Regions from separate parts of the Homo sapiens genome. Here region 1 is linked to region 2. A link means that fine-mapping ties the variant in region 2 to the expression of a gene that starts in the linked region. Tissue or cell type: fibroblasts. Region 2 holds a variant in brackets; the other region holds the start of a gene. All regions are shown on one strand. Distances are from middle to middle.

Region 1 (5,390 bases), 68 kb before region 2:
GTTGTACAGTTTGCAAACTTTTGGGTTCTCTTCAGTAAATGACTATCATTAAATTACAAAATTTAGTTTGGGAATACTTGTTTTGATGATGAAGGAGATGTAGATGAAAATTAATATGATTCGTTTCTATATATTTTCACAAATTGATGATTATGTTGAGGAATGAGTATAGAGCAAGTTCATTTTTCTCTTATTTTTTAGATTGATGAATGATAAACAGATTCCCATGAAGTTTCTGAAAATCTAGTGATGGGAGCAGAGAAGCATCTTGGAGAAATGGGCACAGTGTTGTAAGGGAGTGATTTGTAAGTTTTACCACAAAATGGAAAATCTTGAGTTATGAGTCAGGAATAAGATTCAATCACCAATCCTTAACTGAAAATTTTCTTCCTCCATTACCAAACCTTGTAGTTTTAAGAGAGTGGTTTTTTCTTAAAGTGAATCTTAGTAATGCTATAAGCTGTTAAAAAAAAAAAAAAAAAAACTAACAAGATGGATGTTAAATACTCATTACCAATTATTTTAACATCTTGTAGTTCTTCCAGCTCTACCCAGACCAGATGTTTAGACTCCTTCTTATTTATAATGAAGATAGCTAATAAATTATGTCTCTCAATAATGTTTAGAGTGTTAGTGCTCTTCCTAAATATGATTTAATTTCAAAATGGGAGTAAAGGTAAAACAAAAAACAATAACCAAAAAGATCAAAAAGAAAACCCTGCTAAACTACAAATGGCAAGATCCTGCTAGTTATAGTAAGGGATGAATTTGTTGAGCAGGGCAAGTTTAAAATCATACCATTTGTGGATAAAGTTGGCCTTTTGTATCAAAATGTATTTCTATGTGCTAGAGACTTCTTGTGCCTACTTCCTTACACTGCAGTGTACACAAGTATAAAAAAGGTACTCTTCAGACTGTTAATAATATTAATTGTGTGATACAATAATTATTTAATGGACAGACAACAAATGAAGAGAAAAATAGCTATTTGGCATCATGTTTAATTAGAATTTTGACGTTAAAAAATTCTGGATGCTATTCGCATTTAAGGTATTATATGATTTTTAAAACAAAATATTAGCCTCTGATAAAATCTGTTAAAATTGAAGTTAGGCTGGCTTTGGCAAATTGATATTTGTTGGATAATTGATAAATGCTTTGCTCATTAACTGGTCTTTGTTTAGCTAAAGGCAGTATAAACACATCAGGGAAAGATGTATTATTTAATCCTTTTGGGTTATTTTCTTCCTTCTGGGTCTTTTCTTATATTTTCTTTCTTCCGTGTTCCCCCTCTGTTTAATTTAACCCTGATTAACCCTGATTACACAAGCCCTAACAACTGGGAAAAAATATGGCCAATATGAAAAGTACTCAGAGGCAGAAATAATTAAAGGCGTGCATTACAAATAAAATCAAAAGGAATTAAGTTTATTTTTAGCTCAGACAACTGGAGGCTGAAAGTGGATTAAAAGTACTATTCAATTAAGTGATGTGTGTGTGTGTGTGTGTATTTAGGAGGGGTTGTTCATGATTACTCAATCTACAGAACAAGAAAGTGAAGACAGACTATTACTAGAGCAAATGTTACTAGTAATTAAGAAGTATTCTATTCTTTGGGGGATTTGAGAACGTCTTCCATTTCTAAGTTCTGCCGAATGTCATATTTTTTATGAGAATATGTTGGAGATTAATGAGAGCAGCCAATAAGGAGAGCAAATGAAAGTTAATAGAAGACAGAATCAAGTTGGTTTTACCAGAGTCTGTAGCTGACAGAGAGATGTTAATGCATTGAAATCATTGAGAATATTATATAGATAAGTTAAGAGCAACCACGGGACTTCTATGTCAAGATACCCCGTGTATAAGCTGGTAAGCACACTGCTTAATAACTGTCTGGTTTTGTACACAGTCCACAAAAATCTTGATTATTGACTTACTTACATTTTTCTTACCCTAATACACTATTTTACACACGTGCCTCAAAATTGTTATTTTTATCTGTGCCCTGATTGGTTACACATACATAGAGTTTCTCCCAATATTTAACTGCCTTTCTACTTCATCCATCCTCCAGTCACCTGCTCCGAGGTTACCAAGCCGGAATGCAGCAAGAGCGTCTGCAGCTGCTACAATTGGTAGAAGTGGCTTCGGCAGATGGTTGCTGAACAATGACCCACCAAGGACTACAGTTGTAGAAGGGAGAGGGGAGACGGGTATCATATTTCCTCCCTGAGATGTATAGTGAGTGGTAGTAATTGCAGTGAATCCAGCTCACTGTCTCAACAGCCTCTCACCTGCACCGTCTCCTCCCCTGTCTTATAACTGGACCAGCAGTTAAACAGCTGTATAGCCTTGTCTCCCTGTCTCATTTTCCCCTGAGCTCCATCAGCAAGAGTAGCAATAGCAGCTGGAGAAGCGGCAGCCAGAGATAGGCAGGGCTGGTGCTTGCAGCCGCGCAAATCGCCTCCTCCTCAACACACACACACACACACACACACACACACACACACACACACTGCACAGACTTCCAATATCAACGCGTCTTGACATAAATCAAGGACTAAGAGAGACTGAAGAAGAGCGTTAGTCATGGACAACAGGTATTTCATCTCTGACAAATTGTTTCCTTCAGCTGCTTACTGGTTTGGATGATAAAATAATCATTTGTGATAGCTAGCTTGAGTGGGAGTCTGGAGGACTGGGGGTGGACGCGATAGAGGAGCGGGGATGAAGTGGGAGGAGTGAGAGGTGGGGAAGGGGGACGCCAAAGATGACTTTCAGGCTCCGGAAACCTACGTCTTTCAGCCTCCGCTGTTTTTTAGTTGCAAATGATCAGAGACGGGTGAACTGCAGGCAGCCTGTGTTGCTGCCTGGAAGTAGATTTCCATCTTTCAGACACTAGTTCCAATGGGCCGGGTGTTCTGGAAGGGGGTGGCAGTGGGGAGGAGGATGCTGTGAGCAGAGTTCTTGAAGCTCCACTCCTCTGGGGAAGCCGAGCTGTGTGGGAGCCTTCTTACTGTGCCGGGAGCGTGTGAATTGGAAAGGATCCTGAGAACTGGCTAGTCCCAGTTCCTCTCCGGAAAAGCAGTGGCTCTCGCTTCAGAGATGCGCTCAGCTTTCGCCTGCATCACACTGCAGTAAGTTAAACTGGACATGGTTGGCAAATTGAGTGGCTTCTGGGTGTGTGGTGCGGGGGAAGGGAAGCTGGGAAGAAATGGGGAGGAAAGTTAGAGAAGCATAGCTTTGAATTCTCCATGAAATGTTAAATCGGTTCGTCTCCCTGACTCCTGTCCTAGTTATGCTATAGTAGGGGTGCTCTGTGATTTGCAGGCGGATGCCGCTTGTGTATTAGCTATGCAGAAAGTGCCCTGTCCATTGTGATTTTGGGCAACATAACTGATAAATGTTTTCTAAATTTAATTCCAAGAGTGGTCTCCTGAAAGTTACCAATGAGATAGCAGCTTGTCTTTTCAAAATGTAATTCATAAAGAGGCTGGCTTGGACTTTCAAATGCCCTAGTTAATTGTTACAAGTTCCAGTCCAGATTTATTCCTAATCTGTGAACTAAACAAGCAAGCAAGCAAACAAAAGTCTTCGATTTACCTTATTAAATTAAAATAAAACGTGAAGTAGGTCTCTAGATAACTGCTAGGCAACAGCCTAGGCCACACTGATGATATGATAAACATTCAAATACTCTTCAGTGGGTGCCACATGGAGGGTCCCCTCAGTTTCTTCCTGCTGCAATAATCTCCTCCACTTGCTGAACAGTCTCTTTCTTGTGATTTTAAAGTGGCGATTTTTACATAGATGGCTCTATACTTAGAAACCAAGCAGCATTGTGTTCACTGGCAGAAAATGAAGGCTTAAAACTTTTATAAAACAACTTCAACTGGTTGCTCAAATTGCAGATAACCAACTCTTTTAAAAACAGGTCAGCAAGGACCAGTCCATTGTAAAGCAAATGACCAAATAAACATGAATGCAAGCAGAATACTGAAGGTCTTTTCTAGAAAATAAATCAGAAATAATTAATGTTAAAAATGTTGGGGTACCTAACCAGGTCCTCTTGCATTGACCAGATTTTTACAGTGGTGGTGGGGCAGTGGGGGGTGGGGGGGGGTGGAAATCCCTCAAACAGAAAGCATATATTACACAAAAATGTTAGACTTAGTTGGAGGATCATTGGAGAAAACACTGTATTAGTACATTTTTCTCCAAGAAAAATTATTGACAAAACAGAAATTACCTAAAAGAGAATGTAAGATTTTAATCTGGATACGTCCATAGGCTAGCATATATTCCATAGGAGAAGAAGCTTCAAAATTTGTGAAATAACAATTGTGAAAAACAAAGTAATTCTGAAATCCTCTGTCTTTAGAAAATGGGTAACCAAGGACTACTCTTATCCTATAATTTCAGTTTTAAATTGTGCTACTCTTTCTCTAATCCACCAAATCTTCATGCTTTTACCAAAAATAAAACACGTCAAGAATGTCATTGGAATAGTCTTGGCTAATTTTCTACTCATCACGGGGATCTCCAGGTATAAAGGCTTACTTAATATTTTTTGGCATTGTTGGAGTGCCCAATTTGTTATAGGCGATCCATGCCACACACATACATAGTATCCCTGTGCATAAAGTCTACATGTGACCTTGTGAATCACTGAGTAAAATATAATGCAGGGAATATATTTGCTACAATAGTGCATACATGAGGGTGGTTAAAAATTTTTGACAGCAATGAGAAAGAAAACGAAAAGTCTATATGAAGAATAGAAGAATATGGTTGGAGCAAATTTGCAAGCAGTTCCCTAATACTCTAGAGTCAACTATTATTACCTGAAATCTTTATGTAGCTAAAGAGGAAGAAAATTAGGTTAAGAGCACTGATAAAAATTTGACAAAATTTTTTTAAATCTAGAAACTTATGTAGTTGGAGTTGAGCGGTGGCAATGCCTTTGCTTCATACTTTCTTGTCCTACTGGTAAGCAAAGCTCAAGTTATGACTGGGAAGATTATAAAAATCATTTGTGTAATAAAACAATTATTTAAATTGTTTTAACAATTTAAAACCATTGGTAAGTTTTGCTGGGATAGTGTCTGAACTAGTATCCTATGACTGATGCTTTTTCTTGCACACTATTGAAAGAACGGAGAGTTGTAGTCAGACAAGCCAGATGAAGATAGCTGCTGATCGCGAAATCTAATTCTGCCTACTGATAACGACTATGATGTGATCTATAGGCTTGAAATGACATTTCAAGATGATCCTCTCCTGGATGTTTCTTCTGGCTGCCTTCAGGAACAGAGCTGTATTTATATATGCACAATACTGTTGCAGTATTCTCTAAAGAGTAGTACCTCTAGCCGAGGAGCACTTGCCCA
Region 2 (5,390 bases):
TTTTTAAATAACAAAGACAACATGAAAAGTGCTAGATTTCCTGCTCCAAGGACTTTCCTGAATAATTAGGAAGCAAAGAATATCATGATTAGAACCTATTCTTGTGTAATAAATTGCCAGTGCCAAAATATAACAGGAAACAAACATCATCCTGAAGATTATAGAAGTCATTCATTTTTCATGCTGTTCAATATGCATGATCAGTTTATCGGGGGCTTTAAAGATTAGATTTTTCATGTTGCAATGCAGTATTGGTAAGTGACATTCCTCCATACTCTATTAGAAAAATGATACAATGCATTCACTTTCTTGAGTTTGATTTGTATCTTTTAATAAGAATTTCTTTATGTACATTAAAGAAGTATAAAAAATCAAGTTATTGATTTAAAGTTAAATTTGCAACATGCTAAGATTATATTTGGTATATATCAAATAAGTATTTTATTTGCTTTCTTGGAATAAGGTGGGGCTGTGGAACTATTGGGCAAGATGAGTGAGCTCATGGGACACCAATTCCAGCAAAACCAAATCATTCAATGTTGGACCTAGAGAATACCATAAAGATAATTGTCTCAAGTTATCTGATTTTACATTTCCTCCACAATTGCCAGAATGCACCCTGTAACTATGATTGTTCTCCTAAATGCTAGGCTTTTCTTAAAAATAATTAAGGATAAGTAGGGTGATACTGGCACAGTATTCTTGGATAGGTATCTAGCATACCAGACAGCTTGTGTTTAAATACTGATCCTACCATACTTCAGATATCTGACTTTGGGTAACTTAATATATCTGTGTTTTATATGGAAAAAAATATGTCCAGTGCTATAAGTATTAAGTTGAATGAATCAGTATATATGAAGTATGAATTAGTATATATGAAGTAATGAGAGCCGTGCCTGGCAAATTGCTAGTGATATGACTGTTTACAATTATTATCTTACTAGAGAGGGAGTGTGTTCTTCTGGCTGTTTGAACATATTGTTGATGATCAAGTAGAAAAGAGCCACAGTTTGGAGCATGAAGAGTCAGTGTCTGTTTTTCTTCCACTAGATTAGACTCTTCTCACAAGGTAGAAGCTTCTGGTGTAATTGGCAGCCTCCGCTCTGTGTTGTCCCTACAAATGCCGAAGGCAGCTGATACGGAGCCTGCTGTGACTGCCTACAGCATGCTGTGACCGTGCTCCGGTTTAGGGTTTCAGGCTGAGTCACTCCATGGGAAGCATTTCCCTTGATATGTGGGAGAGGAGTATAATTTTCTTCCTCACTCTTGATATAAAGTCATCCAAACTGTTGTTATAGGATAGAAAGCTCTCACTCCTGCCCTTTAGAGAATTAAGCTTATCACATTATTGGTCTGTCGGTGCTTTCTGCTGTGGTTCCACGTCACAGCAAAGGGTTAAGAAACTCCTGGGCTTTTCATGGATAACAATATTTTCTATGTGAAATCTACGTGATATTTCCAAATGATTCATTATCTGCCCACGTATTGTCACTTAGGGTTAGCTTTTTATTTGCTATATATAATGTGTGTTATATAGCATGCAAATTATTTTCGAAAAATACTATGTTATTATGGTGGGAACCTTTCCAAACTTTCATAAATTTCATACAGTTTATAGCAGCTGGCATTGTGAGGAGTTGCAAAATTACAGTGAATTTGTTCTTTTCAATAAGGACGAATGTGCATAATGTTTGGACCTGGTGTGCAGTTTCTTCCATTGCAGTGAGGCATGTGGTGTGACTTAGTGGAAAGAGCTTTGGTTTTGCAGGCAAATATTTGACGGTGTGGAATCCCAGCCCTGTTTTCTACTTATTAGTGGTATGGCCTTCGTAATGTAACATAAACTACCTGAGCCTCAGCTTTCTCACTTGAAAAAGTAGAATCCCACCTCAAAATCTTGTTGTAGGATTTAATGAGACTATAATCAGCGTCATACTAAATAATGGATTTTCAGTGCCTTACTGTAAATAGTATACAAGTGTTAACTCATTTAATCCTCGCAGTAAGCCTCAGAGGGAGACAAATTATTGCTGTTTATGGCAGAGTAGCTGGACCAGAACTGTGGCACAATAAGTGATAACAAAGGTCAAAACAGGAATAATTTGTTTATGTTTTTCATGAAGATTGATATGTTAATAAACAGGTTCTTAGTCATGTTTCCAAAATAGGAAAAGCTAGAATCCAGGATTCAGATAATACGATATCTCGGTCCTGAAAGGGGAGAGAGAGAGAGACTTGACCTCCTCACAGGTGTGTAGTCAATTTATTTTTAGGCAAATTTAGATCACACGCTAGCCCTCTTGCCCGTTTGTCATGCTGAGATTAGCTTTTACTTCTGTCCTGAGCCCTGTGTTAGATTGGCTCTATTTTGGGAAGCCCAGCCACTTATTGATAATTACCCTCTTTGTATGAGACAGAAGGATAAATGGCACAGGGCCATTTCGCAGTGTCTGAGAACACATAATTTGATGTCAGACAAAACTGGGTTTGAAGGCTAGTGCTGTGATGTATACTTCAGTTTCCTCATGGAGTTGCCTTGCTGATTAAATATGGAAATGTATGTGAAGTGCTTGGAATTTAATATATTACTGTTATAATTAGGATTGTGATAGTGGTGGCTGAGGCAGTTGAATATGAAATGTGGACTTTTAAAATATTTAAGCCTTTTCAGTTAAAACACTTATCTGAAATGTTTTGACTTACCAGAAATGTCTTGACTTTACCCTGACACTTGGTCTGAAACTTGAATCTGCAACTGTTTTAGGTAGTGCATGTCTCTCATTTCTGACTCTTTCTTCTGATTCACACTGATTAACTCAGCAGTTCCTGGCTCTGACCCAGATTATATTTCTAGAATATATGTTGGCTTCATATATTCTTTTGCCTCATCTCTGGCTCTGGTTCCTATTTGTTGTACTGCTTCAGACACAATTTCCTGTTGGTGGCTTCTCTGTGTCCATATGTCTTAAATCTTTCAATACCTAAGTTTTGCAATAGTAAAAGAAAAAAGTAACTATGAACGTCTAAACTCCCATAATTTTCGTACCCTAAAGATGCAAAACTTTGGGTAAGCTCTTTTCAGACTTGACCTCCCCCCAAAAAATCCAT[T/C]TGAGTCCAATTTATGGTCAAGCAAACATTGATACTGAAGTAATGGCATCTGTGGAATGTTGGTCAAAGTGAGCCAAATCATGCCATGTCTGAAAAATGTACGAAGTCTTAGTGGGCTAACACAACAGAAGTTCATTTTTTGCTCATATTACATTTCCAATCTGAGTCAGCAAGTGGTTTCATCTCACATTGTCTACAGTGAAGTCCCAGTCAGATGGAGCAGCCATGAGCTTTAAAAATTGGCAGTTGCTGTGACAGAGAGAGAAAGAGAGAGAGAGAGAGCACTCGTGACTGTGTGCTGGCTCTGATACCTTCTCCCTGCAAGTGATACGCTAATATTTCTTTGGCCTAAGCAATTCACATGACCATATTTAACTTCAAGGGAGTAGCATTTCTTCCATCTGCCCAGTGCCAGGGGAGAACTGAGCTATTTGGTGAAAACTACTAATTTGGCCATTATCACAGGAGTAAAATAGAACCTACCATTTACCTTGGGACATTAGCCAAGTCATCACAATTTCTTTATACTTTCATTTCATCCCCTCAGTTTATACTGAAGATAATAATCCCTACCTATAAAATGATAGCTCTTATTTTTGTTAGTAATATTATTATAACAATTTATAACAAAAATTATCACTAAGGCTTATGTATCTTAAGTTGATACTTTATCCTTAACTCAGTGATGGTTTACAGGTTGTGATTCACTAGAATTTTCCAAGTTTCCTTAGTTACCACTTTCCACATTATTATAGGAAGTGCCACAGTAAATAATAAATAGAGTACACAAGCTAGAGGAACTTAACTGTATTCATTATTCAGCAGCCTGTTCGGAGAGACAGATCCAGTGGCAAATGATGACAAAGCAATGAAATGCATTCTCTGAATGTTACGTATGCAAGATTCTTGGAGAGATTTTAACTCTGCGCATATGGATAGAAGTTGAGAGTGGAATGGGGTTTTAATTTGAATAGAAAGTATTGAGTAGAGGTGGGGGAAGAAAAGAAACTCCAAGCAGTTATCAGAGCATGTGGAGAAGCAGGAATGACTGTTACATATCAGGGAAGAACTTGATGTGTGTGTTGGTGTATAGACATATTTGTGTATGAGCATGCATGTCATGCATGTGTGTACATGGGCATGAGTCTAAGCACTGAAGGTAAGGCTGAAGAATTTAGCAATAGTCACAAAAAGTGGGTCTTTAGATGCCATTGATAAAATATTATCCATCAACATTGCCTAACAATGAAATGAATACACTCCTGAGAAGAAGTCAAGCCCCTCTCCCCTTTCCTTGTGGAGATGTTAAAATCCAAATCCTGGAGTCTAGCTTTTCCTATTCCTGAAACATGATTAAGAACCTATTTATTAACAAATCAATCTTCATAAAAACACAAACATAAACATAAAAACAAACATAAATCTTCATAAAGACATAAACATAAATCAATATCTTCAATATTAATTTTGGAGGTAGTAAAATATCTGAAGATATTGAAGATTTTAATTCTGGAGATAGCAAAATTGTAAGATTTAAATTTCAGAAAGAAGTAAATAAATTGTATCTTTGATGAAAAGGAGACTAAAAACCTATTAGGAGATTATTTTACTAGGGCAGCCTATTGAATATGTGGGGTTCCATGAAGGTTAAGGCATTGTTAACAGAGAGATAAGCACATGTTACAGGGAGTATCTAGAGGCAGAATGAACCGAATTCAATCACCAACTGAATATGGAGACTAAGGAAGAAGGATGGGGCATTTCAGCTTTTAGAAGTAAGTCAGTGTGGCTCACCCAATCCAGGAAAGGAAAACAAAAAGAAATAATTTAGAGGGAAAGTAGAGTGGTTTGATTTTGGACATATTGAACCTTAAGTTCACAGGTTATCAGATTGAGATATAAATTCGATACTTGGAAATACATATCTGGAGCTCAAGAAAGAAATCAGAGCCAGACATATAGAATGGGTGTGCCTTTGCATTGTGAGTAGTTATCAAATCATGGGCATAGATGAGATGTTTTAGTGGAAGCAGATTGAGCAAGGAGAGAAGGATGGAGATGAAACTCTAGAAAGATTTATTTATAAGACAGTTGGAAGATGAGATCTCCATGAAAACAACTGAGAAATTGTAACCAGAAAGAAAGAAGAGAATAAGTGATTGAAAGTATTCCACAATCCAAAGAAGAAACATGTTTTCAAAAAATGAGATTGAACTTGAGATAATAACCAAAACGCATCCCGAGTCTTTATCATTTAGAATGCCACTGGTGATTTTAAT

Which allele goes with the higher level. Alleles are on the strand shown, and positions count from the first base shown. SD is a standard deviation of normalised expression in the study named.
For the expression in fibroblasts of the gene that starts at base 2,978 in region 1, allele C in region 2 goes with a higher level than allele T (large effect, 1.0 SD a copy in GTEx).

The links.
Region 1: DGKB starts here. The variant in region 2 is fine-mapped to the expression of DGKB in fibroblasts (GTEx, PIP above 0.99).

The regions. Positions count from the first base shown.
Region 1 is chr7:14,900,339-14,905,728 of GRCh38, reverse strand. It overlaps DGKB (diacylglycerol kinase beta), which reads left to right and starts at 2,978. Exons shown (of 26, transcript NM_001350709.2): 1 at 2,978-3,137.
Region 2 is chr7:14,832,536-14,837,925 of GRCh38, reverse strand. All of the region lies in intron 2 of DGKB (diacylglycerol kinase beta), which reads left to right. Among named protein-coding and RNA genes, the nearest start is that of DGKB, 68 kb to the left of the region's middle. The variant T/C (reference allele first, on the strand shown) is at 3,112.